Regions from separate parts of the Homo sapiens genome. Here region 2 is linked to region 1. Evidence: fine-mapped expression QTL. A gene starts in region 1. The other region holds a variant in brackets. All regions are shown on one strand. Distances are between the middles of the regions.

Region 1 (2,801 bases):
GCCACACAACACAGCCAGAACTCCACCATCAAGCCCTCCACCTCCACAGTTCGGCCAAGGATACCTACCTCGAGCGTGACACTTGGAGTCCTGGCTCCCCACGCAATGGAACATGAGCAGCAGCCACTGCTTTGCCATTGGTGGTCCGACTACAGTCACACGTGTCTGGCCTGTAGCTGTGAAACACCTCTCCAGCTGAATAAGGGTGTGGCTGTGCAGCTCAATGCAGCGAAGGTACGTGTCATCAAGTCCTGTAAGCACAAGAAGTGAGAAGAGAAACTGTCAGCCACCAGTCCTTGGGGAGTGAGGAGGTGGCCTTGAGGGTAGGGATGTGTGACTCATGAAGGTGGGAGGAGAGGGGAAGATTGAAAATCGAGAAGGGGATGAAGGAGGCCGGCCTAGCGCAGTGACTCATGCCTGTAATCCCAGCAATTTGGGAGGCCGAGGCAGGTAGATCAGTTGAGGTCAGGAGTTCCACACACGCCTGGCTAACATGGTGAAACCCCGTCTCTACTAAAAATACAAAAAATTAGCCGGGCGTGGTGGCAGGCGCCTGTAGTCCCAGCTCCTCGGGAGGCTGCGGCAGGAGAATGGCGTGAACCCGGGAGGCGGAGCTTGCAGTGAGCCGAGATCGCGCCACTGCACTCCAGCCTGGGCGACAGAGATTCCATATCAAAAAAAAAAAAAAAAAAAAAAACACGAGGCCGGGCGCAGTGGCTCACACTTGTATTCCCAGCAGTTTGGGAGGCCGAGGCCGGCAGATCAGGAGGTGAGGAAATCGAGACCATCCTGGCTAACACGGTGAAACCCCATCTCTACTAAAAATACAAAAAAAATTAGCCGGGCGTGATGGCGGGCGCCTGTAGTCCCAGCTGTTCTGGAGGCTGAGGTGAGAGAATGGCGTGAACCCGGGAGGCAGAGCTTGCAGTGAGCCGAGATCGCGCCACTGCACTCCAGCCTGGGCGGCAGAGCAAGACTCCGTCTCGAGTCTCAAAAAAAAAAAAAAAAAAAGTACAAAAACTAGTTAGGCGTGGTGGCAGGCGCCTGTAATCCCAGGTACTCTGCAGGCTGAAGCAGGAGAATCACTTGAACCCAAAAGGCAGACGTTGCAGTGAGCCAAGATCACGAGCGAGAATCTGTCTCAAAAAAATAAAAATAAAAAACAGATGAAGGAGGGGACGTGGGCAAAGGCCACTCACCGAAGATGAGCTCCTCCTGGTCCTCTTCCATGTGGAACACCATTGGAGAATGAAAGTTTTCGGGCAGGGTCCACCACGGCTCCTTGCTGAGAGCACTCGTTCCCACGGCCATGCTGTGCTCCCACCTGATTCAGAATAGGGGAAAGTCTAACAAACTGGTTGGCAAAAGACTTGGAAAAGCGAGGAAGGGCCTAGGCTCTGTCCTTAAAAAGGGTTGTCCTTAATAAGGGTTGTTGGAATCCAAACAACCCGCCCCTTGATCCACCTTAGGGTGGATGTCCAATCCCCGGAGGTCTTCCCAAGATAATTCATTCCAAGTAATTATCTGCTCTGAGCTTAATTCTTTCAAGTCAAACTTAATCATCTGATAAGTGCTTGGCTTTCTGATGTCCTGGAATCAGAAATTTTTCTTCACTCTAAATTCAAAGAATTTTGGAGCAGGGGGTTGAGGGTATGGAGGTGCAGGAAGGCTCCAAATGGGCTCCCTAGATTTGCACAGGTGTCGGCAGCCACCCAGTGACCACACAGTGTATTCCAACACGACTTGGTTTATTTGGTGTGTTGCGTCAAGGGAGAGCAAACAATAGAGGAAAATAAACTTGATAGGATAGTGTCATAGGGAGCCCATTGTAGGAGTTGACTAGGGCAGTCCAAGGCGTGTTTAAGGAGTAGGAGCCAGTTCTCTAAAATGGTGCAATTTGATGATTATTCTGGTAAATTTATCTAGGAAGTTGAGAGACTAATGTGGTCTTCACTGCAGAATGTTATCTCTCTCTGGTTTCAAATATAGTTACAGAATAGACTTTCTATATCTTGTTGCATGACAATCACTGAGCAAACTTGACTGCTTAAAATATTCTTCGGCCGGGTGCAGTGGCTCATGCCTGTAATCCCAGCACTTTGGGAGGCTGAGGTGGGCGGATCAGGAGGGCAGGAGTTCAAGACCAGCCTGACCAACATGCTGAAACCCTGTCTCTACTAAAAATACAAATACATTAGCCGGAGTGTGGTGGTGCACACCTGTAATTCCAGTTACTCAGGAGGCTGCAGCAGGAGAATCGCTTGAAGCCGGGAGGCAGAGGTTGCAGTGAGCCGAGATCGCACCACTGCACTCCAGCCTGAGTGACAGAGCGAGACCCCGTCTCAAAAAAAAAAAAAATTTTGCAGGAGATGTTTGTGTGTGGTAGGGAAGATTCAGCTTGGCCTGTCAGCTTCCCACTGCAAGTTCCTGGGTGATTTTTCACTTTTCATCCTCCTCTTTTGACCAAAGACAAAGTCAGCCATCAGGACTTTCATCTGTGAGGTTCAGATCTACACCACTGTCTGAGTCCACAGATCACAAGGTTATCGGGAGAACATTCTCTGCATCCACATACATTTGGTCTCTCATATACATTTAGTACAAAATATACAAGTGAAAATATAATGACTGCACAGTAGCATTTAAGACTGAACAGGAGGCCAGGCGCTGTGGCTCACGCCTGTAATCCCAGCCCTTTGGGAGGCCGAGGCACGTGGACCACCTGAGGTCAGCAGTTCACCGCCAGCCTGGCCAACATGGTGAAACCTCGTCTCTACTAAAGATACACAAATTACCTGGGC
Region 2 (2,801 bases), 24 kb after region 1:
TCCCTCTTCCCTTCCCCTCTCTCCTCTGTCTTCTACTTTAATCCGATGTTCCACTTCTCTCTCTGTCTCTCTCTCTCTCTCTCTCCTCTATCTGTCTCTCTCTCCTCTCTCTTCTCTCTCATCTTCCCTTCTTCCCCCTCCTTCCTCTCTCCCTCCTGGTTTTCTTTCCCTTGTTAGAGAAGACTGCCTTTTCTCAGAGGAAAGACTTAGGGTGAAGTAAACAGAAAGATTTCTTTTTGCCCAGAGGGAAAAATAAGATAGAATATACAATCTGAGAAAATTAGAGTACAGAATGCAATTAAACAGAAAAGAGGGAGTTAACAAGATATCCCAGCCCCTTGGTCAGTGAGGCGAAGCATCAGGTGCAACTTAATCTCCCTCTTCCAAGAGGCTACCTCTTCCACTTGATTCTTTCGAATGAACAAATATTAACCAACAATCCAATCCACTTTCAATTGCTTAATTACTGTTCCTTTTAAGTGCCAACCATCTGACTTTTCCTGTTTCCATCTGTCCTGTGGAGCTATTTGGTATTGCGTATCAGTGTTAATGTCTGAACTTCAAGGGATTTTTTGAAGAAAAAAAATTACAAATAAATTATTACATTCCTGAGGTTTTCTAGTATGGCCTTTATGTTGGGAGTCAAAAAAAAAAAAAAGAAAGAAAGAAAAGGTAAAGTTTCAGAACATTTATAAGTGACACCAGTGTTAACAGGACACTTGGATTTCTACTGAGAAAGCTAATCTTCTAGTTAGCTTTGTGTACATGTTGATAATCACTTTCTCAATTATTAACCCTTGAGTGAAATAAAGAAACCATTTAACTTTTGTGTTAAAGCTTAAAAAATAAAAAAATCCAGCTCACCAGTGTGGTGGCTAACAGGAAGCTGAGGCAGGAGGATTGCTTGAACCCAGGAGTTCAAGGTGTGCTATGATCATGCCATTGCACTCCAGCCGAGGCGACAGAGTGAAACCCAGTCTCTTGAAAAAAAAAATTATATTCAACATTGAAAAAGTATCTCTGAAAAACAACAAAGTACTTATGTACTGGGTAGGGGTGGCTGCCAGCTAGGGCCAGCTGGTGCCGCTGGAAAAATTATTCATGCATAATTATGAAAATAATATTATCCAAAGTACCACATAGGACCACAAATACAGAGTCAGAGATAGTGTGCAGTGAGTTGTCTAATGCTAGTTATGCACAATCTTGGTAACCTCATATTTTAGAGCAATAAAAAAGGCAAGGTTTGCAAGTGTAACACATGGAGTAAGTAATCATCTTTATTTCGTATATTCATGGGAAGCGCACACACACAGGAAGGAGAGGAGCCCTGGTGCTCTTAGCTTTGCCTGTCTCTGCTGGATGTGGACTCACAGAAAGACGGACACATCTGAAACCAAAAGTGTGAATAACTTTCTGATGGTAGAGGGGTTTTTATTTTTGTTTTTATTATTTTGTTTTGTTTTTAGAAACAGGGTCTTGCCCTATTACCCAGTCCAGAGAGTAGTGTC[G/A]TGATCATAGCTCACTGCAGTCTCAAACTCCTGGGCTCAAGTGATCCTCCCGACTCAGCCTCCCAAAGCACTGGCATTACAGGCATGAGACACTGCACCCAGCCTGATGGTAGAGTACTTAAAAAGCAGGAATATGTTAACAAATATGCACTCAAATAAAATATAGTTTCTCTTGCATCCTACATGAGTTTCTCAAGATTCCTTATACTTGAACAAATGATAATCTATGAGAAATTGACAGCTTCAAATGTATGGGTTTCATTTAGCATGGCTTCTCATGTTCCCAGGTCACAAATCCATGTCTTATTCAGTGGCTCTATCACTCTGTCAATCTCTGGCTCACAGTTGCAGTTTTTCAACTCACAGATGATGTCAAAATATAGAAAAATAGAACCCTGTTTAGTGCTGATGGACACTAACTCCTAACATCAATTTAATTCCAGGTGATTAGTTTAAACTAATCATGATAATCTAATTCCCCTGCCAGTGATTGCTTTAGGAAATGGCACATGTCCCAGTTTTGAAATGAAGCAAAACCTAAAGGAGGCTTCCAGCAGAGGTTGTCTCATTTCTGAAGAGAGACACAAAAAAGAACTTGTCTATTCTTACCTTCTCACAGTGTTTATAGCAGGATATGATTTTGGAAATAGCTACAAGTATTTTGCTACCAACCTGAAGAGGAAGCCAACACAAGGTGGAAAGGGAGGCAAACCAAGAAACTGAATTTGAGCCCTTGGCATAATATGCCTGGAATGCCTGCTATTGGCAATAATACAGTGCTTTATTAGCATCCAACTGGACCAGTGTTTCCTGTTATTTGCTGTTCAAATCATGCTACATGATTCTGGTCCCTTTTACATACTACTCTCATTTTGATTGATTGCGCTCAGCAGTGTTCCACTCTCCAAGGAGGGACAATGAACTGTAGGTAGCAATGTTTTATCACATAAAACCTGAAGAGTGAAAAGCACAAAGTTTATCTTGATTATTTTCATTCATAAGCACTTTCCAAGTTACAGAATATTAAGCATCAAATAATTTTTTTTTGAAATCGAGTCTCGCTCTGTTGCCCAGGCTGCAGTGCAGTGGTGCAATCTTGGCTCACTGCAACCTCCACCTCCCGGGTTCAAGGAATTCTCCTGCCTCAGCCTCCCGAGTAGCTGGGATTACAGGTATGCTAATTTTTGTATTTTTAGTAGAGACAGGTTTTGCTATGTTGGCCAGGCTGCTATCGTCAAACTCCTGACCTCAAGCGATCTGCCCGCCTCGGCCTCCCAAAGTTCTGGGATT

Evidence for each region. PIP is the estimated chance that this variant, and not a neighbour inherited with it, causes the effect.
Region 2: its variant is the best candidate, but not a certain one, in a credible set for the expression of KHDC1L in cerebellar hemisphere (GTEx, PIP 0.76).

The regions. Positions count from the first base shown.
Region 1 is chr6:73,224,098-73,226,898 of GRCh38, forward strand. It overlaps KHDC1L (KH domain containing 1 like), which reads right to left and starts at 1,399. Exons shown (of 3, transcript NM_001126063.3): 1 at 1,200-1,399; 2 at 69-251. The coding sequence starts at 1,311. It overlaps LOC122539213 (KHDC1-KHDC1L), which reads right to left. Exons shown (of 7, transcript NR_173146.1): 5 at 1,200-1,324; 6 at 69-251. RefSeq lists enhancers at 1-954, 189-483.
Region 2 is chr6:73,248,300-73,251,100 of GRCh38, forward strand. The region is part of intron 1 of KHDC1 (KH domain containing 1); the gene reads right to left. All of the region lies in intron 2 of LOC122539213 (KHDC1-KHDC1L), which reads right to left. Among named protein-coding and RNA genes, the nearest start is that of KHDC1, 13 kb to the right of the region's middle. The variant G/A (reference allele first, on the strand shown) is at 1,512.